Regions from separate parts of the Homo sapiens genome. Here region 2 is linked to region 1. The links come from fine-mapping of genetic effects on gene expression. A gene starts in region 1. The other region holds a variant in brackets. All regions are shown on one strand. Distances are from middle to middle.

What was found.
Region 2: its variant is fine-mapped to the expression of POLB in whole blood (TOPMed, PIP above 0.99).

What each region holds. Positions count from the first base shown.
Region 1 is chr8:42,333,647-42,344,802 of GRCh38, forward strand. POLB (DNA polymerase beta) reads left to right here and starts at 4,848. Exons shown (of 14, transcript NM_002690.3): 1 at 4,848-5,039; 2 at 5,366-5,423. The coding sequence starts at 4,979. It also overlaps the pseudogene RPL5P23.
Region 2 is chr8:42,281,114-42,292,269 of GRCh38, forward strand. IKBKB (inhibitor of nuclear factor kappa B kinase subunit beta) reads left to right here. Exons shown (of 22, transcript NM_001556.3): 3 at 7,521-7,615; 4 at 9,043-9,160. Among named protein-coding and RNA genes, the nearest start is that of IKBKB, 15 kb to the left of the region's middle. The variant T/C (reference allele first, on the strand shown) is at 5,248.

The sequences.
Region 1 (11,156 bases):
GAAATAAAGGTGTGAACAGGATCACACCTCTTCTGAAGGCTCTAGGGAGGTTCTATCCCTGGTGGCGTCCAGCTTCTGTTGGCTTTAGGCAATCCTTGGCTTGTGACTGCATCTCTGCCCCTGGGTCATATTGCTGCCGCTTTCTCTGTCACATCTCTGCTGTGTATCTCTTACAAGAATACTTGCCATTGGATTTAGAGCCAATTTGAAAAATCCAGGGTAAGCACTTTGTCTCAAGATGTTTCATGTAATCACAGTTTGCCATATGAGGTAATGTTCACAGGCTCTGGAGATTATGATGTGGACATCTTCTTGGGGGCCACCATTCAGCCCACTACAGTCCACCCTCTGGCACCCCAAAATCCATATTTGTCCTACATGAAAAAGACATTTATTCCTCCCAACATCTCCCAAAGTCTCAACTCATACAGCATGAACTAAGACCAAATTTGCATCTATATATTAGCTCAGAAGTCCTGCATCTCATCATCTAAGTCAGATGTGGGTGAGACCCCGTGCATGATTCATTTTAGGATTAAATTTCTCTGGCTGTGGACCTGTGATACTACAGGTTATCAGCTTCCAAATAACTTTGGAATTTGGATAAATAAATTTATTTAAAATGATGTAATAGGCATATGATAGATGTTCTCATTCTGAAAGGGAAAATTGGAAGGGATAAAGAAGTCACCATTCCCAACCAATTTTGATCTAGCAGAGAAAATTCCATTAGGATTCAAGGCCTGCAAATAATTCCCTAGCTTGAAGTGCCGCCCACTGGGCCCACAACAGTTGTGCAGACCTTTGTGTCTGCTCACAGCAGAACCATGGGCCTCTCTGTACCCATGGTGGCTCCATAGGCCTCTGAGTCTGTGCTCACAGTGACCTCATAGGCCTGTGTCTCTGCATCCATCACTTCTGTCTGCTCCTCTGGCCTCTGCCTCTGTGCCCCTGGCTCTGCCCTTGGAGTCATTCTTGCTTTTTCTTGAAGGATCGCATGTTTGCAGCCCAGTAGCTCTATCAGCCCATTTCTTGCCCGTAGCAGTTTGGATTTCAACAGCCTTTTCTCATTTCACACTGTCTCTGTCACTTCCAGGCTAAGCTGTCTCTGCTGATGTAACATTCTCAAAAATCTTGTGGGTCCCCTGTGTAATGTCATGGAGTTCAATGCCATTAGACAAGAGGGTCCTCCACAAATTTTCTGGGATAATCCCATCTCTATTCCTGACTTCTACTGAGATGGTTGAATGAGTCCAAGAGTCCCATGCTTCATCTCTTCGTGCCACCACACCCAGTACATTTTTCTTATTTTTGTAAAAGAGATGGGGTCTCGCCATGTTGCCCAGTCTGGTCTTGAACTCCTGGGCTCGATCCTCCTGCCTCCACCTCCCAGAGTGCTGGGATTACAGGTGGCCGTGTTTGACACTTCAGCAAAACTGCAATTTAAGTTATTAACTTTATTGAGTACTTACGTGGAAACAAAAATTAAGTCCCTTCTCCCGTGGAGCTGGCATTGCACATTGGTGGGAGGAGGAGTGAGCAGGGAGTGCATAATGTGCAACCACGTGTGAATATTTCCAGTCCTTCTTAGTACTGTGAAGGAAACACACAAGTAAAAACCTGGGCCTGGTCCAGGAACGTGACAAGGGTGTGACTGCCAGGCTGGGACCTGAATGATGAGAAGAAGGCAGCCAGGGAAAGAACCATACAATGAGGGGACAATGCTGAGCAGGCACATGTATGTATGAAATATGGGCGTGTGTGTGTCCTAAACAATGAGAAAAGTGGCAAGAAATGCAGTAGGAGAGCAGGCAGGAGGTGGATCACATAAGGCCTTGTGGGCCATGAAAAGGAGCTTGGATTTTTTTTTTTTTTTTTTTTTTTTTTTGGAGACTCACTCTTGTTGCCCAGGCTGGAGTGCAGTGGCCCGATCTTGGCTCACTGCAACCTCCACCTCCAGGGTTCAACCTCCCTGCCTCAACTTCCCAAGTAGCTGGGATTACAGGCGCCCACCACCACGCCTGGCTAATTTTTGTATTTTTAGTAGAAATGGGGTTTCACCATGTTGGCCAGGCTGACCTTGAACTCCTGACCTCAGGTGATCCGCCTGCCTCAGCCTCCCAAAGTGCTGGAATTACAGGTGTGAGCCACTGCGCCCCGCCAGGAGCTTGGATTTTATCCTAAGTGCAGTGGGAGGGTGTATAAATAGGGACATATTTTGATACTACATCCTAAAAAGATCACCCTCTGTTTGGGGAATATTCTATAAGAGGACAAGAGCAGAAGCAGGAAGCCCACTGAGGAGGCTTTGGTAACAGTTCAGGAGGTCATGGGAGTTTGATCTAGGGCAGTGGCAGCTCGGGATGAGAGGTCATCCAGTTCAGCACATATTCCTGAGACAGAACAGACAAGGTCTGCTGGCAGACGGGATGTGGGGTGTGAAAAGAGCAATTAAAAATGACTCTTATGGGTTTGGCCTGATAGCAGGGTGGATTAAAATGCTATTAACTGAGATGGGGGAAAGTTAAGGAGAAGCTGGTGGGGCAAGAGTCAGGAGTTCTTTAGGACATTTTATCTTTGAGATGCCTATTATGGACTAGAGCTATCCAGTAGACAGCCTGATGTATGAGACTGGAACTCAAGGGAGAGGTCAAGACTTGAACTATGAGTTTAGGAGACTTTCAAGCTAGACATGCCATTTAAACAGGTAAAACTGGACAAGTTGGAAAAGCTGGTTAGAAGACTGAAGTGTGAAGCCATTTCCCATAAAGGCTGGAGAGTGGAGGAGGAGCTGGGAACCAGTGCTCAGGCGCACATGTGCGCACACACACACCCTGCTGAGGACTGGCCAGTGAGGAAAAAGGAAGCCCAGAGCATGTGGAATCTTAGAAGCCAATTGAAGCAAGTTATTTCAAGAAGAACTTTGTGAAGCAGATCAAATGTCGGTTGTTCTAAGACGATAAGGACAGATAATGGATTATTTTCCTTGGTTTCTCTGGCACTAATTTTAAAAATATAGTATTTGTAAAAATGGGCTAGGTGCAGTGGCTCACGCCTGTAATCTAGCACTTTAATAGGCCAAGGCGGGTGGATCACTTGAGGTCAGGGGTTTGAGACCAGCCTGGCCAACATGGTGAAACCCCATCTCTACTAAAAATACAAAAATTAGCTGGGCATGGTGGCAGGATCCTGTAATCCCAGCTACTCGGGAGGCTGAGGCAGGAGAATCACTTGAACCCGGGAGGCAGAGGTTGCAGTGAGCCGAGATCGTGCCATTGCACTCTGGCCTGCGGGACAAGAGTGAAACTCTGTCTCAAAACAAAAAAATTTGTAAAACTGATCCCACAATTCCCTACATTTGTAACTTTTAAAATTCAGAGGTAAATACATTTTTATTTAAGGAGGAATAATTCTTCAGAGCAAAATAATCTGAATATCACCTGGAATAGAGATTGGACAGAAAAAAGTGTGAACAGGGAAAACTAGGACAAGTCATATATGTAAATGAGAGTATAAAGAGTAAATGAGAGTGGTCACTGCTCACTGCAGCTTAACTAATCAGATAGTTAAGTTGCAGGCATAAAGTTTTTTTAACTTTTATTCCTCAAGTAATAAATTGAGGAAAATACAAATATGTACAAAATTTTTACAAAAGCTATCCATAAAAGGGCAAGTAGTAATATATAGAAAAGATCTACCAGATTAGTAACAAACTACCCCCATTAGGAAAATGGTAAATGATATGAATAGGAAATTCAAAAAAAGAAGAATTACAGATTTCCAATAAGCATAACTTAAGATATACACTGATATTGTAAGGAAACACAATCACCACAACCTTGCTAATCAAAGAAACTAATGATATTTATTGGAAAATAATGGGAATTTTTAATAGACTGGGTTAGAAGACTAGAAGTGTACGTCCCAAAATATTAATAGTTCAGCTGTAGGGTGAGATCACTGATTTTAATTTTCTCCTTTTATACATTTTTCCAGATTTCTCTACAGCAACTACGTATCATTTTGTAATAAATTTTAATTTTTCGATGCACAAAGCAATTGCCTGGAATTGCAGTTCGATATGAACCCAGGAGTTACGCTTGTAAAATAAACTATTGCTGATGTGACATTTCCATTTCTCAAGCAGACTGTAAATTTCTCAGATGTAGGTCATCATGTTATAATTAGGGTTCCATTGCTCATGATCTAGATGAAACACTTCTCCCTTTCTTGTGGTCTCTTCATTAATTTGGTCCCTACCGCAAAGGCAGGGGGATTAAAAATAAAATATCTTTTGACACTGGTTGGCAGGTGTACTAACACGTGTGCGGGAGGATTCCTGTTCTCGGCATGGTTCACGCCGGGCTCCGGCAGCGCCCTAGTACGTAAGGGGCTGCACTGGAGTGTGGACTGCCCGGTATCCTTAGAGAAAGTTTTGACAGTGTGACGCCAGTGTCGCCTCTAACCACGTACAAAACGCGCCATGCATTGGGTAGCTATTACAGTGCACATTTTTGTGCAGGAAGCTACCCCACCAGCGCAAGTATTTCAGAATCAAGATCGCACTCCCGTTTCCCCTTCTAGGGAAAGGATTCCAGATAAACACTGAGAAAACAGATTTAATATCTTAGGTCAAAACTCCAGGTCTTCCCATAGGAAGGCCCCTGGGCTGTCATTCTGAGGTGCCTATTTCCCCCGCGCCGTGTCCACGTCCACGAGTCCACGAACCCTCCGAGTTCTCTCTCCTCACCTGCCGAGGGCTCGCCCCTCTAGCCCCGCCCCGCCCCGCCCAGGACGCGTGACGTCACAACAAGCGCCGTGCGCCCCGCCCCCCATCGGGGGCAACCATTGTTCCGCCGGTCGCGCCGGAGCTGGGTTGCTCCTGCTCCCGTCTCCAAGTCCTGGTACCTCCTTCAAGCTGGGAGAGGGCTCTAGTCCCTGGTTCTGAACACTCTGGGGTTCTCGGGTGCAGGCCGCCATGAGCAAACGGAAGGCGCCGCAGGAGACTCTCAACGGGGGAATCACCGACATGCTCACAGGTTAGCACCGGGCCGGGCCCCGCTGGCTTTCTTCTTTCCTTCCAGCCTCTTCCCCTGCCTTCCTTCTCTCCCACACCGACAGTCCAGTGGGTAGGGTAGGTTCCTTGCAGCGGGTCGTCTTCCGTGGGGATCTCCCTCCGGCGCCCCTGGCTGGTTGTCAGTCCTGCCGGCTACACCTGGGCCATCGCTTGGGCTGCTTTTGGTCTGGCCCTTGGAGGAAACGGGTGGTCACTGTCTCTTAGAGGCTGCCATATCCCCTTCCAGAAAACAGTTCTCGTTTGTTTACTCGTGGTTCTTGTTCACCCGAGCCTTCTGTTGCCTTTCAGAACTCGCAAACTTTGAGAAGAACGTGAGCCAAGCTATCCACAAGTACAATGCTTACAGGTGGGACAGTGCAGCATTCTCGGGTAGCATACGTTCTGGGATACCCTGTTTAGTGTGGCAATTAACAGGACTGAGGGCCCAGTGGATATTTGGTCCATCTGCAAGAGCGGGAAAAAGCAAGAATCGAGGCTGGTACCTTACTATTTCTTGAAGAATGTGGGCAGTGCGTTATAGGATCAGTTCAGATAAGTTCCCAATTCTGATTGCAGATAGCTGTAGCCTGATACGTATTTTGTCATCATCAAACATGAATTACTAGAAATGCGGTGTAATTTTAACCGTAATGAAAGACAGCGGATGAAGTCCATACTGTGAAATATATGTGGTTCAAGGAATCACATTTTTTCTTTTGGTTGGTCTAAAGTTGATCCTGTGGGATCCTGATCCTGATCCTTGTTCCTTGTTCATGGGATCCTGTCCTTGTTCATCTCACCAGGGGCCTTATCCTATTCATTCTTTCCACATCCACCTGCTTCTACTCCTTAGCCTATATTTATTTATTTATTTATTTTTATTTGAGACGGGGTCTCGCTGTGGTATGATCATGGCTCATTGCAGCTTCAACCTTCCAGCCTCAAGTGATCTTCCCATCTCAGCCTCCTGAGTGGCTGGGACTACTACAGGCGCACGCCACCACACCCAGCTAATTTTTTTTTCTTTCTTTTTTTTTCTTTTTTTTTTTGTAGAGACCGGGTTTTGCTATGTTGCCCAGGCTGATCTCCAACTCCTAAACTCAAATGGTCCACACACCTTGGTCTCCCAGAGTGCTGGGATTCCAGGCATCAGCCTCGGTGTCAGCTCTCCTTAGCCTATAAATATGTGCAAGTCCCTCAGCTCTTAAAAGCAAAACCAAAACAATCTTAACTTCCCTCTAGCTAGCACCTTCCCTCTTTTCTCACTTTATGGTGAATCTTCTTGAAAAATCTTCATTCCTTGCCTGGACTTCTTAATACCTAATCATTTACTCAAGAAGTCCCAGTCCTTGCCTGGACCTACCAGTGCTCTGAAAATCCGCTCACCTACGTCTCATCTTATTGGACTCTCTGTGGCATTCACCCCTGGCTCATGCTGTGAATATCTCTTGACTTCTGTAATGGCACTCTTTCTGGTCTTTCATCTCTTCTTCTGTCTTACCTTTTAATGTTGGTATAGGTTGAGCATCCCTAATCTGAAAATTTGAAATGCTCTAAAATCTGGATGATTGCCGACATGATGACACAAGTGGAAAATTCCACATCCGATCTCATGTAGTAGGTGGCAGTCAAAATGGTCAAAACTTTGTTTCATGCACAAAATTATTAAAACGACTATATAAGATTACCTTCAGGGTATGTGCGTAAGGTGTGTGAGAAATATGACTGAATTTTGTATTTAGACTTGTATCTCCCATATCCCTAAGATATCTTATTATGTATACGCAAATATTCCAAACCCTGAAAAAAATTCAAAATCTGAAACAATGCTGGTCCCAGGCATTTCAGATAAGGGATAGTTAACCTGTGGTTCCGGGGAGTCTGCCTGCCCTTAGCCCTCTTTTCTTACTTCTGTAGTTTCCCTGGCAATCTTGCCATTCTTGACTTTGAAATGCCACTTATGTCAGTGACTCCAAATCTGTGTATCACTGGACTTTTTTCCACATTTTTAGCCCTATACTGTCTTTATCCCAAGTCAGCTCCCTTCTTCCATTCCCACTCCACACAGTTCAGAGCTGATTGTGCTCCCTCCTTTCCTTACTTCTGTGACTTCCTCTGTAAAGTAAAATAATTGTATTATCATCCATACATTTGATGATTCAAAATTACAGAGATATTCAACTTTGTATTCTATTTGGATCACAGCAGGTCTCAGAAAGGAGGTGTTTAGTTTGAAGAAGCTCATCGGGATAAGTGAGAGGGCCAGCAGTCTAGACAAATAAAATGTGCCAAAGCATTGAGACATGAAGGGTATAACGTTTTCTGGAAGTCAGATGTTCAGTTTGCTTAACGGGTATGGTATGAGTGGGAAATAAGTCTGGAAAAGCAGGTGATTCCCTACCACTCCTGCATGCTCCTCCCTACCCCAGTAGACATTTCTGTTGATTGTGGCCAAAGTATTCTTTTGAAAATAGTTATCTGATCTTGTCAGTCAAATAATTAAATAATATTTTCTCTTTACCTTGATAAAACCCAAATACATCATAGCATACAAAAGGCCTTTCATCTGATTCTTCTTCCCTTTTAGGCTTTGCCTCACAGTGCCAATGACCTGGAACTACTTGCCTTTCCTGAAATGATCCCCTCCATAAACTGTGTTTGCCTGCTCCTTTACTTATAAATATGTCTTTTCAGATTCATCATCAGTCATGTGCTTAGAGAGAAGTTCAAATCCAAATATAAAGGGTTATTTGTGCTATAACAGAATGCAAATCCAAGGTTCCAAAGACTATCCAGTGTTTATGCTTTTGACTTAGCTGTACTGTCACTTCTCATCAGCATCAACTCTGAATTACATTTTGCATTGAAATTATAGACAGAATACCGTCAGCGAGCTCCCAGGGTGTATCCAATCTGTCACCAGATTAACAAACTGGATATGTGTGGAGGTGGGCAAGAATTACAGGTCACCGCTTTATGCTGAACTGCAGTGGGAACAATTTTTTTTTTCTGTCCATAAGTTTATTGTCTTTATCTGAAAAATCCTCGTAGAAAATTGTTTGGTTTAGCTCTCTGCAGCCCCCTCCTGAGCCGTGGGGAAGCTTGCCTTCTTTTGAGCTATGCGATCTTTCTTCTGAGCAAGGGACATTTTGGGATGGTTCCACCTCTTTTTAACTTCTTTCTTGAGCTTCTTTTCATAGACTGGATTCTCTCCTATAGCAGCATGAGCTTTCATCTCCTTCATCATGTCTGAAGTTATGCTATTCTTTATGTATTGAGAGAACTGTTTCTTGTAAGCATCTTTATCTTCCATTAAGTAGTGCATGTAATCTGCAACATTCTGGCCTATGTTGTGCTTCTGGTGTAATTCTGCATTGAATTCCTTGCTTTCAGAATCATAACCAGGGAATCATTTGGTACTTTGAGGGATAGACAAGCCTCCATCCAGGTCACCAAAAACTTTATTGCCAGTGGTAGTTCTGGCAAGGCCTGCATCCAAATAGCAGGTGAAAGCACCTGGCTGACCATCAATGCTTTCTACATTGTATTATCGCCAGTCACCTCCACTTGGCCTTCATAGATCTTGTCCATGCCAAACCTATTGAGAAGCCTGTGGGCCAGCAGCAGGCCAGTACAATATGTTGCAGCATAATTTGTCAGGCCAACCTTCACACCATATTTTGGCAGTTCGTGTGCATATGCTGCGCAGACTATCATATCCCCCTCTATACGGGCATAAGCAATCTGACAATTGATATCTCTGTTTGTTATATGAACTATCATCCTCTATTTGGGTGTGTTGTATTTATTTTTATCCTGTATTACCAAGCGTTTCTGAGCATAGTAATCAGTTTTACCATCTTGTCATCTTTAAGTTTCATTTGGTATCTCTTAAAGTAGGCCTTATTCTTAACAACTTTAACAAAGTCCATCCTGTGGAACAGAGACCTGCAGGCCCAGCAGCACTAGGGGGTGGAAAGGCGGGAGCAATTTTTAAAAACTGATGTAGGGGCCAGGCACAGTGGCTCACGTCTGTAATCCCACCACTTTGGGATGCCAAGGCGGGTGGATGGCATGAACCCAGGAGTTCAAGACCAACCTGGGCAACATAGCAACATCCCATCTGCATTAAAAAAAAATAAATTGATATAGGGACATAAGGGAATGCAGTTTGAAACTATGAATTTTAAAATAGCTATCCAAGGGCTGCGTGTGGTGGCTCATGCCTGTAATCCTAGCACTTTGGGAGACCGAGGCAGGTGGATCATTTGAGGTCAGGAGTTGGAAACCAGCCTGGCCAACATGGTGAAGACCTGTCTCTACTAAAAATATAAAATTGGCTGGGCGCAGTGGCTAACGCCTGTAATCCCAGCACTTTGGGAGGCCAAGGCAGGCAGATCACGAGGTCAGGAGATCGAGACCATCCTGGCTAACATGGTGAAACCCCGTCTTTACTAAAAATGCAAAAAATTAGCCAGGCGTGGTGGCGGGTGCCTGTAGTCCCAGCTACTCAGGAGGCTGAGGCAGGAGAATGGCATGAACCCGGGAGGCGGAGCTTGCAGTGAGCCGAGATTGCGCCACTGCACTCCAGTCTGGGAGACAGAGCAAGACTGCGTCTCAAAAAAAAAAAAAAAAAAAAAAAAATATATATATATATATATATATATACACAAAATTAGCCAGGTGTGGTAGCATACACCTGTTATCCCAGCTACTCAGGAGGCTAAGGCAGGATAATTGCTTGAACCTGGGAGGCAGAGGCTACAGTGAGTCAAGATGGCGCCACTGCACTCCAGCCTGGGTGACTCCATCTCAAAAAAAAAGTAACATAGGTATCCATAAGCAGATCTGGTGTCTAATAATTCACATGTGGCACATTTTTATGAGGAAGTTATGAACAATTTCTAAAAACTAGCTATTTTAAAAAAGGGGGCCCAATGATGATTTCTACTTACTCCCAAAGAAAGACAGCTGGTCTCCCCATCCCTTGAGTATTATGTATACAGTTTAAATCACTTTGTTACTCAGCACAAATCAAAACAAATCACTTTGTTACTCAGTACAAATCATACTCTTTGACGTATAGAGTTTAAATTCAGTTATTCTCAAATGTGGAGCTTTTCAAGATACTTTAAAAGTTAGACGTAGGCCAGGCGTGGTGGCTCACGCCTGTAACCCAGAACTTTTGGAGGCCAAGGTGGGCAGATCACAAGGTCAGGAGTTCGGGATGAGCCTGGCCAACATGGTGAAACCCTGTCTGTACTAAAAATACAAAAAAATTAGCCAGATGTGGTGGCGCATGCCTGTAATCCCAGCTACTCAGGAGGCTGAGGTAGGAGGATTGCTTAAACCTGGGAAGCGGAGGTGACAGTGAGCTGAGATCACGCCACTGCACTCCAGACTGGGCGACAGACTGGGCGAGACTCCGTCTCAAAAAAAAAAAAAAAAAAAAAAAAAGTGGCCGGGAGTGGTGGTTCACGCCTGTAATCCTAGCTGGTTCACACCTGTAATCCTAGCTTTCTTTGGGAGGCTGAGGCGGGTGGATCACCTGAGGTCAGAGTTTGAGACCAGCCTGGCCAACATGGAGAAACCCTGTCTCTACTAAAAATGCAAAAAATTAGCCAGGCATGGTGGCGGGTACCTATAATCCCAGCAACTTGGGAAGCTAAGGCAGGAGAATCGCTTGAACCCCAGAGGCGGAGGTTGTGGTGAGCCGAGATTGCGCCATTGCACTCCAGCCTGGGCAACAAGAGCAAAACTCCATCTCAAAAAAAAAAAAAAAGTTAGACATATATTAGGTGGTCTGTCAGCTCATCTGATTTTTAAGTTCCATATGGAGGTAGAAAATTAGGCCAGGCGCAGTGGCTCACTCCTGTAATCCCCGCACTTTGGGAGGCCAAGGCAGGTGGATCACGAGGTCAGGAGATCGAGACCATCCTGGCCAACATGGTGAAACATCATCTCCACTAAAATACAAGAAGGCGCGCCTGTAGTCCCAGCTACTCGGGAGGCTGAGGCAAGGGAATCACTTGAACCCGGGAGGCGGAGGTTCCAGTGAGCTGAGATCGCGCTGCTGCACTCCAGCCTGGCAACAGAGGGA
Region 2 (11,156 bases), 53 kb before region 1:
GCATCTGAGCTGGGTTCCCTGTCCGCATGATCTCTCCCGAACGCTGGGGAAGGGAGGCTTCTTGGGGTGAATGGAGCTTTAGCAGGATCTGGAAAGGAGGTACACTTTCGAGGGCCTGGCAAGAAGACAGAAGCCGACTCAGGTGGGCAGAGCAGCATCTCCACAGGGCCAGAAAAGGAAGTGAGGCTGCGGTCGTTTATTCCCGGCTCCCTGTGGTCGGATGCTGTGTTTCATTTTAGCTGACATCCCTGGAGTGGATGGAGCCATCCCCATCTTATGGATGAGGACCCAGATGCTTGTACCATGGGCTTCTATCGCACCTTTACCAGGCGGTGGGGGAGGGAGTTACACCTGGACCTGCTTGTCTCCTGAGCCCGAGTGCCTGGCTTCTGTGGGTGAGGCGGCAGGCCACTGTGCCCCTTGGGGGTCTGCACTGTAGGGAGTAGGGTGAAGAAGTCATGGCCCTCTTAGCGTAGACCAGGCGATGCTGGGGCCCAGGGTCTGTCCAGTTACCTGCTGAGCCAGGGGTGAAACTGCAGCTGGATCCCGGACCTTTTTGGCTCCCAGCCCTGGGTCCTCCTGCCCAGTCTCTCTGGTCCCAGCCCTGCACCTCCTTTCTGAAGCATTCATTTCAGGGGGTGGGGTCTGAGAAGGAGGAGGAGGTTTTTACTAATTGCCCCCATGTCCACAGTGGCCTGGTTGGATGCTTGCCATGATAACGGGACACTGGGCTTTCTGCGCTAAGGGTCTAAACATGGCTCTTGGCCTCTGTGAGTTTCCCCTGAGTCGCTGGAAGAGGCAAACTTGAGGAAGCTGGGCCCCTTTTGTTTCTCCTGTGACTGGGTCTTCAGCTCGCATCTGCCAGGCACCTTTTGGTCTGAGGATGTGCTCCCCCTCTGCCTTTTTTACACCTTATGACACACATGCTTATATATAAGTTTTATGTTTACATGCATCAAAGGCAAGGAATTGCAAACTCTGAGGACCTTCATAATCACTACATTCAATCTGGACATACAGGGGACCCTTTCTCCGTTTTCTCAAAATACAGACCAGTTTTTTGTTGTTTTGTGTGTGTTTATTTTTTGAGACAGGGTCTCACTCCAGTAGTCCACGCTGGAGTGCAGCAGCATGATCACAGCTCAACGCAGGTCTCGCTCTATTGCCCAGCCTTGACTTCCGAGGGTCAGGAGATTCTCCCACCTCAGCCTCCCAAGTAGCTGGGACTACAGGCATCTACTACTATGCCTGGCTAGTTTTTAAAAATATTTTTAGTAGAGACAGAGTCTTGCCATATTGCCCAGGCTGGTCTCAAACCCCCGGGCTCTAGCGATCTACCTGCCTTGGTCTCCCAAAGTGCTGGGATTATAGGTGTGAGCCACCATGCCCAGCCACAAAGCAGTTTTAAGTTTTGTCCTTCACGAGGAGTTCATATACCAGAAGTTGGGTACTGAGATGGCGCAGGCCTAGTCTGGGTTTCCACAGAACTAAGCTAAGACTCAGTAGATTCCAGGAAAAATAAAGTAAGCCATCCTTCTTACCTTACATGTGTTTGAGTTCCACTGCTAGTGAAGAACAAACTCCCTGGGGTTTCAGAACCGGTGATCGTAGCCTGCTTCTGTTTTAATTGAATTTTGCTTTCTAGAGCAGGTATGTTTTTAGTAACAAAGTCATTCTGTTTGCATTTCTGTTTCAAATGAAACATTACTCATGGAAAAACTGGGAATATTTCGGAATACTTCCTAGAGGCAGATGAAGGCCACTGTGTTAGGAAAAGTTTAAGTATGTCTGTATCTACGCAGACCTTCCTAGGCCCAGGGAGTTAGGATTTCGCCTCAACTCTAGGGCGAAGCTGAGCTGTCTGTGAGTAGAAAGTTAGTTTTGGTATCTATGCCCAGTTATTTCAAGACTTGTTCAGTGTTCACATTGCTGAGTTCAGTCTTTTTAGTTTGCATTTGGATATTTAAGACCAATATCAAGTCTTCAGTATCAGAATCTCCTCCTGATTCTGGGTTGGGCCAAGTGACAGCTGTGTATCAGGTCCAGTGTTTGTGTTGGGCAAAAGACTGCAATTATCCAATTTGTAGCTAGACAGATTACCTAAAATCACTTAATAAACTAAGTCATCTAATCTATTTTTTGGATCTGATGATCTGTCCTGTTTCATTTATGATAGGTAGAATAATCCCCCCCAACCCCACCAAGAAATCTGGATCCTAATCCCTGAACCTATGACTGGGTGGGGCAGCATGGCAAAGGGAAATTAAGGTTGCAGATGAAATTAAGTTTTCTAATCAGCTGACCTTAGAGATTGGCCTGGCTTCCCTGGGGGTCCCAGTGTAATCCCAAGGGTTCTTAAACGTGGGAGAAGGAGGCAGCAGAGCCAGGGTCAGCCGATGCATGTGAGGAAGATGGCGGGACATGGCTGACACACGGATGGGCTAAGGGGCTACGAGCTGAAGAAAGTGGCGCTTCTAGAAGATGCAGAAGGAAAAGTAGGGAAACAGACTCTCCCCTAGAGCCTCTGGATGGAGCATAGCCCCACCAACATCTTAGCTCAGGGAGACCCACATCAGGCTTCAGCAGATAGAACTGCAAGGAAATAAAGTGTGTTATTTTAAGCCACCAAGTTTGTGGTAATTTATTACGGCAGCAATAGAAAACAAGTGCCCTCTTCTGTGTATTGAAGTTACGTTGCTGCAGATTTTTCAGTATCTTGGTTTAGTCTCAGTCATTCTAAGGTAACGAACCATAAGTTACAGTCTCTTTGGCTAAACCATTGCTTGGAATAGTGTCCATGGAAATGTTGCAGGGTGGATGGAGGTGGATAGATGCTCTTGGCAATGGCACCTCACGCTGCAGCGGGGCCATCGGTCTCTGTTTGTGGAACCCTGCGTTCCCCACGTCTGAGCTCCTCTGCAAACTCCGCCTAACTGGAGGCAAGTGTCTGTAGCAGTGTCTCAGTCGGCTCAGTGCTGCTATCACAGAGTAGCTGAGAATGGGTAATTTATAATGATTTTATTTCTCATAGTCCTAGAGGCTATGAAGTCCAAGGTCAAGGCATCATCATAGGGTGAAGGCGAAAGGGCAAGAGACAAAAGGGACCAAACTTGTCCTTTTATAACCATCAGTCCCACCTGGGATGCAGAGCCATTGTGGCCGAATTGCCCCTTAATACTGAGGTGATGTCCTGGCGCAGTGGCTCACACCTGTAATCCCAGCACTTTGGGAGGCCGAGACGGGTGGATCACGAGGTCAGGAGATGGAGACCATCGTGGCTAACATGGTGAAACCCCATCTCTACTAAAAATACAAAAAATTAGCCGGGCGTGGTGATGGGTGCCTGTAGTCCCAGCTACTAGGGAGGCTGAGGCAGGAGAATGGCGTGAACCCGGGAGGCGGAGCTTGCAGTGAGCCGAGGTCGTGCCACTGCACTCCAGCCTGGGCAACAAAGCGAGACTCCGTCTCAAAAAAAAAAAAAAAATACCGAGGTGATACTGCTACAACAGGAATTGGCTTTCATTGAATTATGGAAAACTGTGGAACTTAAGCCATAGCAGATATCGTCAGGCAGAGCTGCTGTGGATGAAGCTACCACAGAACTGGGCAAAAATGTGTCTGAGCACTGTGGGGAAGTGAAACCTGAAAGCAAATTCACGTCAGCCTGAGAACAGACCAGGAATCGGGAGGTACAGGGAGGTGTAACATGGTCTGCACATCAATTAAAGAAACGTTATTCTTTTTTTTTTTTTTTTTTTTTTGAGACAGAGTCTCACTCTGTCACCCAGGCTGGAGTGCAGTGGCACGATCTCGGTTCACTGCAACCTCTGACACCAGGGTTCAAGCGATTCTCCTGCCTCAGTCTCCCGAGTAGCTAGGATTACAGGCACCCACCATTGCACCCAGCTAATTTTTTATTTTTAGTAGAGATGGGGTTTCACCATGTTGGCCAGGCTGGTCTCGAACTCCTGACCTCAGGTGATCCACCTGCCTGGGCCTCCCAAAGTGCTGGGATTACAGGCATGAGCCACCGTGGCTGGCCAGAAATGTTATTCTTTTGACACATTCCCTAATTCTTGAAAAGCTTGAGATGGACTTGTGTCCACCATGGTTTGTACCACTGTACTAATCAGTTTAATAGCAACAAGGTGGCCGGGTGCAGGGGCTTAGGCCTGTAATCCCAGTGCTTAGAGAGGCTGAGGTAGGAGGACCACTTGAGGCCAGGAGTTTGAGACCAGCCTGGGCAACATAGTGAGACTCCGTCTCTACAAAAATAAAATAAAAATAAAAAAAATTAGCTGGACACAATGACACATGCTTGTAATCCCAGCTACTTGAAGCTGAGGTGGGAGGATCGCTTGAGCCCAGGAGTTTTAGGCAGCAGTGAGCTATGATCACTCCACTGCACTGCAGCCTGGGCAACAGAGTGAGACCCTGTCTCTAAAAAGAAAAAATAGCAACAGGTTTTACAATTGTTGAGAGAGGTCAGCTCTTGTTCAGAGAGCGCCTCAGAATCTAGGCCAAAGATCAGGGTTCTACTAGACAAAGAGAATGAGAAGGATACTTAGGGCAGAACCTGGATGCCCATGCCTACTGCCGCAGACTGGACTGAGGGGGTCTCCCATAGTCACAGACGTAAGCCTGTGGCTGCACCATGGGTGAGCCTTGGAAACAGTGCTCAGGGAAAGAAGCCTGTCACAAAAGGCCACATGATATATGATTCCATTTATATGAAATGTCCAGGACAGGCTAATCCGTAGAGACAGAAAGAGGTGGGTGGTTGCCTAGGACTAGAGGGGCTCGGGGAGTAGGGAGTGGCTGCTGATGGGTGTGGAGTTTTGTTGTGGGATGGCAGACATGTTCTAAAGTGTGCCGTGGTTTTGGTCTCACAACTCTTGAGTATGCCAGAAACTATTGAACTGTGTAATTTAATTGGATGAATTGTATGGTGCATGAATTATTCTCAATAGAGCTGTTAAAAAAAAGTAGGCATGCAAGGTCACCATCTGATGGAAAGCTTAGCCAAAGTGGTATTGGGCTTTGATGAAAGCAGCTTCTGAGAGTATTTTAGAAGTGTTGACAGTACCTCCTTTCTGGCATGGAGTCTGCTGTTCCATTTCCACCTTTTTTTCTGAAGCTTTTGGTTCTTGGTGTCGGTGTTAAGGATTGGTTTATTGGTCAGTGACTCAGTGGTCTTATTAGACAGCTTCTGGTGTATGTGGAGGTTTCCATTTTTCCTTTTCTTGC[T/C]GTGAAGGTCCTTGTTCCTGCAGGGATCCTGGCCAGTTTGGTAACTGTGAGACTGAGGTGGCTTGAGTGCCATGGGAACAGCCACACTGGGAGGCCTTGCCACAGTCCTCTGTGTGTCTTTTTTTGTTTTTGTTTTTGTTTTTGTTTTGAAACAGGGTCTTACTCTGTTGCCCAGATCTCCTGCAACCTCTGCCTCTTGGGCTTAAGCAATCCTCCCACCTCAGCCTCCTGAGTGGCTAAGACTACAGGTGCATGGCACCACACCTGGCTAATTTATGCATTTTTTTGTAGAGATGGGGTTTTGCCACGTTGCCCAGGCTGATCTGTGTGTCTTTTTAAGTCCCATTCAGTACCATGTCTGTTGCTCACTTACAAGATTTATGATTCTTTTCAGTTTGCATCTTCATAAACTGAGAAAACAGAAATTGGCCTAACAGGGCCTCTAGGACATCCTTCAAGTGAGCCACAGTAGAGTCTGGTACAATGCTGAAATCTTCTCCTACTGCTGGGTGCCCTGTGCCACCCTGCAGGTGTGGCTCTTGCCCAGGTGTGTGTGCGGGTAGGGAGTTTCGTGCTGTAGGTACACAGGAGGTGCAGGATGTTGGTGCAGGTCAGCTTGTTTAGCAGTGGCAGGATCGGCTCTCAGGCTGGGGCTCCGGGAGCTGCTGCCTTGGGCAGCTGCTGCCCCGCAGTTGTCTTGGAGACCCCCCCATAGCCAAAAGAGGTGACAGTGGTGCAGTGGTGACTCCCTTGTGGCAGCTGGAGTGCCCGAGGCCAGAGCCGCTTTCCCTGCTGCCCGTGCCACAGCCTCAGGGCCTGCCCGTCTCCAGTGTCCCCACTCATGCACCAGGGAGAAGAGGGGAGGCCGCCAGGAGCCAGTGGCTCAGCTCATGATTCACCAGGTGGAGGAGCCACCGCTGAGGATGCTGCTGGTTACCTCGATAGAGGTTAAAGCCCATGAAGATGGACAAGTCTATAATTTAACAAAGAGAAGAGAAAACAGCCTGTTACTCTGCAGAAAGTAACTCTTTGGCATGTGCACTGAAGGAATTACCTGTTACAGGAGTATAGCAGAGGGTGAGACCCTCTTGAGCTCGGCAGACCGTGGTGCCCATGCACCTGTGCTGGCAAGTGTAGCAGAGCAGGGCCAAGCGCCAGGGTGGGTGGGGCCGTCTGGCTGTAGTGTCGTGGGAAGAGTGGCTGGAAATGCAGATAGGAGCCAATCTCTGTAGGATGTTAAACAGGAGTACTCGGATGACCTGGGTTCCCTGCTCTGCAGGGTTACTAATACCTGCTAGAGGCTTGTTTTCAAGCCCTGAAAGATGGGTGTCAGTATTCCCATTTTACAGAAGAAACTGAGTCAGACCAAGTGGTTTACCCAAGGTCACACAGCTAGTAAATGGCACAGTTGGAATTTGAACCAGCCAGTGTTTCATCTGCTATATTATGCCATATTATGCTTGCGTTCTCTCTGAAAGGACAAAACTCTCACATGAAACAATGAAGACACTCAATGTGGTGTTCACTATTAGGTTGAACCACATGCAGGTGCCATTTTTGTAGGTCAATGTGGTCAATTATCAGCAGTGTCCCATGGGTCAGCCTAATACAGCAGCAGCCGGGGTTCGGACAGGGAAACCTCTCTGCGCAGGAATGGTCAGTAGAGGTTTCATGGCGGAGCTGGGAATGGAGCAGGGCCTTGAAGGCTCTGTAGACTCTGGATGGATAGAAATGAGGTGGGAGAGGCTGGGTGCGGTGGCTCACGTCTGTAATCCCAGCACATTGAGAGTGCGAGGCGGGCAGATCACTTGAGGTCAGGAATTCAAGACTAGCCTCACCAACATGGTGAAACCCCGTCTCTACTAAAAATACAAAAATTTGCCAGGTGTGGTTGCGCATGCCTGTAATCCCAGCTACTCAGGAGGCTGAGGCACAAGAATCACTTGAACACGGGAGGTGGAGTTTGCAGTGAGCTGAGATTGTGCCAGTGCACTTCAGCTTGGGCGACAGAGCAAGACTCCATCTCAAACAAAAAAAAAAAAAGAGAGAGAAAGAAATGAGGCTGGAGAGGTTGGGTGAGAGGTGGAGTGGTAAGGAGACAGCCCAAAGGGCAGGTGCTACGTGGCTGTCGATCAGGGTGTACATGTGACCTTGGAGCACCAGGAGGTGATTGCAGGTAACGCTTGGGGCCTGGAGACCCCTCCCATGCAGCAGACAGGGTGGGATTTGGCCTGCAGCTCGCTCTGCTGGTCCCCACTGTGCTGTTTCTGTAGGAAACAGGTGAGCAGATTGCCATCAAGCAGTGCCGGCAGGAGCTCAGCCCCCGGAACCGAGAGCGGTGGTGCCTGGAGATCCAGATCATGAGAAGGTGAGGGCCTCGCGCATAGGGACCCAAGGGAAAGCTGGAGCAGCAGCCCCCGGTGTGTCTAGAAAGGAGAGTCTTGCTGGGTGCGTGGCTCACGCCTGTAATCCTAGCACTTTGGAAGGCCAAGGCGGGCAGATCACGAGGTCAGGAGACTGAGACCATCCTGGCTAACATGGTGAAACCCCGTCTCTACTAAAAATACAAAAAATTAGCCGGGCATGGGTGGGCGCCTGTAGTCCCAGCTACAGAGAACACCAGGGAAGGGGGAAGGGCATGCTGCACACTCTGCTGGGATTACTCCAATGACAAGGAAACCCCGTCTCTACTAAAAATACAAAAAATTAGCCGGGCATGGTGGCGGGCGCTGTAGTCTCAGCCGCTCGGGTGGCTGAGGCAGGAGAATGGCGTGAACCCAGGAGGCGGAGCTTGCAGTGAGCCGAGATCAAGCCACTGCACTCCAGCCTGGGCAACAGAGCGAGACTCCGTCTAAAAAAAAGAGAAGAGAGTCTTAAATATCTGCCCCTCCATCAGGGCGCCAGCCTGGCAGTCTCCACGGTGACTCTGCTGCTTCTAAAGACACCAGAGGAAGAGCAGCTAAAGTCCACACTGGGCCTTGTCAAGGGCTGTTCATCAATTTCATTGTATTAAATAAGTTAACACAGTTATCACAGTGACTTTTCTTTTGTCAGCAAAAAAAGCCTTCTTTCCTCCTATATTTCCAGTTCCAAGGTGGTATGTGACCGTTCTCTGCTGTCATGCTGTCGCTGACATTTATTCCTCTAGTGTGGAGACGGGGCTGTCCATCTGCCTGGTGGCTGCTGACCCCCTAGCTAGTGAGGCGTGAGGTGGGCTCCGAAAGAGCCAGTGAGGAGGACACCAAGCAGGGGCTCCTCTGCCAGCCTCTTAAAAAGAGGAGGTGCTATTTGGTTATGTCATGGTTCCATTTGGTTACATGAGTTCCTTCTCAGACCCTTCTCTGTGTGTCCACCTTGGGGTGATGTGTGTGCGTGAACCAACCTGCCGAAAATTAAACAGACAAAAGAAAAAAAATATGAAAACAAAAAGAGCAGGCACCACCTTGTTTGCCTGCTTGCGTGTGTGACACATCCTCCCCATGTGGAGGGCATGAGATTGAAAGGTCCTTGTAGGAGCAGTTTGGCAGCACGATGAGGACTTGGGATGTGGCACGCACAAAAAACTGAAGTTACACGCAGTTGTGCCCTCAGGGTCTGAGTTCTGGTGCTGTGAGTGGGGCTGGGTGAGCGCCACTGACCCAGGCATTGCGGTTGGCCACCCGTCCTGGGCTCTGTCTTCCTCTGTTTCAAAGCCCTGGGTTATCCTGGGCCTTTGTTGCTGAGACCTGGTGGGGGTGGTGGGGATGGGTCTGGGCAGGAGCCTGGGTCTGCTCTCATCGGTTTTCCTCCTCCTAGGCTGACCCACCCCAATGTGGTGGCTGCCCGAGATGTCCCTGAGGGGATGCAGAACTTGGCGCCCAATGACCTGCCCCTGCTGGCCATGGAGTACTGCCAAGGAGGAGATCTCCGGAAGGTGAGGCTCCCACGGCTGCCAGGTGCACAGCCTGTCTGGGCAGGTGGGACACCAGGAAGAGGGATGGGGAGACCTTTCACTTCTGTCATCATCAGGAAGCTTGGGGAGCCCCAGTGACTCCAGCAGGGCTGCTTTGCCTCTCAGATCCTCTGTTCCCTGCCCACCTGGGGCTGGTGTGTGTGTGAGTCAGAGGCGCTTCCGAGAACACCAGGGAAGGGGTAAGGGCGTGCTGCACACTCTGCTGGGATTACTCCAATGACAAGGAAAACTCATCACAGGTCTGGGCGTGGGGAAGGACTGGGCAAGTTCCAAAACAAATGCTTCCTCCCTGGGCATGTTAGGGCCACGTTAGGCCTTTGGTGCCAGTGCCACTGCTCTCCTTATTAGGAGGGATTTTATTCTAGAGATGGGACAGCACCACACACGGGGGCAGGGAGCATAGCAGAGAGGGAGCAGGATTCATGATCAGAGAGCCGGGCCAGGGCTGCAGACCCGCCCCAATCCATCCGATCCACCTGACCCACCTGGACTCATCTGTGGGGCTCTATTCTCCACCTTCTCACCACACCACCTCCTCTTCCCTAGAATGTTCACTTCTGGTGGGTGGATGGCAGCCCCTCCTGGTCTCAGGGGCAGTTGGGTGCCCTCCTCCCCATTGTTCCCTATGACAGTACCACACAGCCTGCTAGTACATGTTACCTCATTCGATTTCCAAAAGCTCACACATGGGTGCACAGGTATGGTTCCCACATGATGGGTGGATGTCATGGCCCAGAGAGGTTGGGCCTCACACAGCTGTAGCAGCAGAGCCTGGGTCCCAGCCCACACAGACCCAGCTGCAGGCCACCTCTCCATCTCTGAGGCTGAATAAGGCCATATAACATTATGAAAACTGGAAGCTCTGAACAAAATAATTTTTTTTTTTGAGACAAGAGTCTCGCTGTATTGCCCAGGCTGGAGTGCAGTGGCGTGATCTCGGCTCACTGTAACCTCCATCTCCTGGGTCCACGTGATTCTCCTGCCTCACCCTCCCGAGTAGCTGGGATTATAGGCGCCCGCCCCCACGCCTGGCTAATTTTTGTATTTTTAGTAGAGGCAGGGTTTCGCCACATCAGCCAGGCTGGTCTCCAACTCCTGACTTCAAATGATCACCCACCTCAGGCTCCCAAAGTGCTGGGATTACAGGTGTGAGCCACTGCGCCCAGCCAACAACAATTTTTATTTTAATTGAAAAAGAGGTCGGTTGCTCTGCGAGTGCACCTCTTCACTCCAGAAGGGTCACAATAGTGGGGGCGGGAGCCCAGGCGTTTATTCCTGTTCAGTGGCCATTCCCAGACACACTTCAGGTGCTGTTCTCACTGTTCCTCCAGGCCCTTGTGCCTCTTAAAAAAAAATTTTTTTTTCCACTTTGGAAAGCTGAGACAGGAGAATAGCTTGAGGCCAGGAGTTTGAGACCAGCCTGGGCAACATACCAAGGCCCTGTCTCCTCAAAAAATAAAAAATGAAAAATTAGCCAGATGTGGTGGTGTGCGCTTGTGGTCCCTACTACTTTGGAGGCTGGGGTGGGAGGATGGCTTAAGCCTGGGAGGTTGAGGCTACGGTGAGCTATGATTGTGCCACTGCATGCCAGCCTGGGTGACAGAGCAAGACTCAGTCTCAAGAAAAAAGATAATCCTGTCTCAGAACAAAGAGACAGATAAATAAAATAAAAGAAACTTTCCATGGGGCTTGGCGTGCTGGAGTGGCTCTCCCTGGAGATAGGCATGTCCTGGGAGTGGCACTCACAGCAGGATATGAACACAGCCCTTGGCATCACCCACAATGAGAGATGGGGGAACTCAACAGCACTTCGATTTTCTCCTTATTTTTCTAACCTTTGACAGTCACCCATTACTAACTGCAGCTGTGTAGAGATAAAGCCATGTTGTAGTCAAGTGGAGACTTCTCAGAGGGCAGTCTGGAAGTAGGTGGGATGTGGCCAGATTACAGAGGGCTC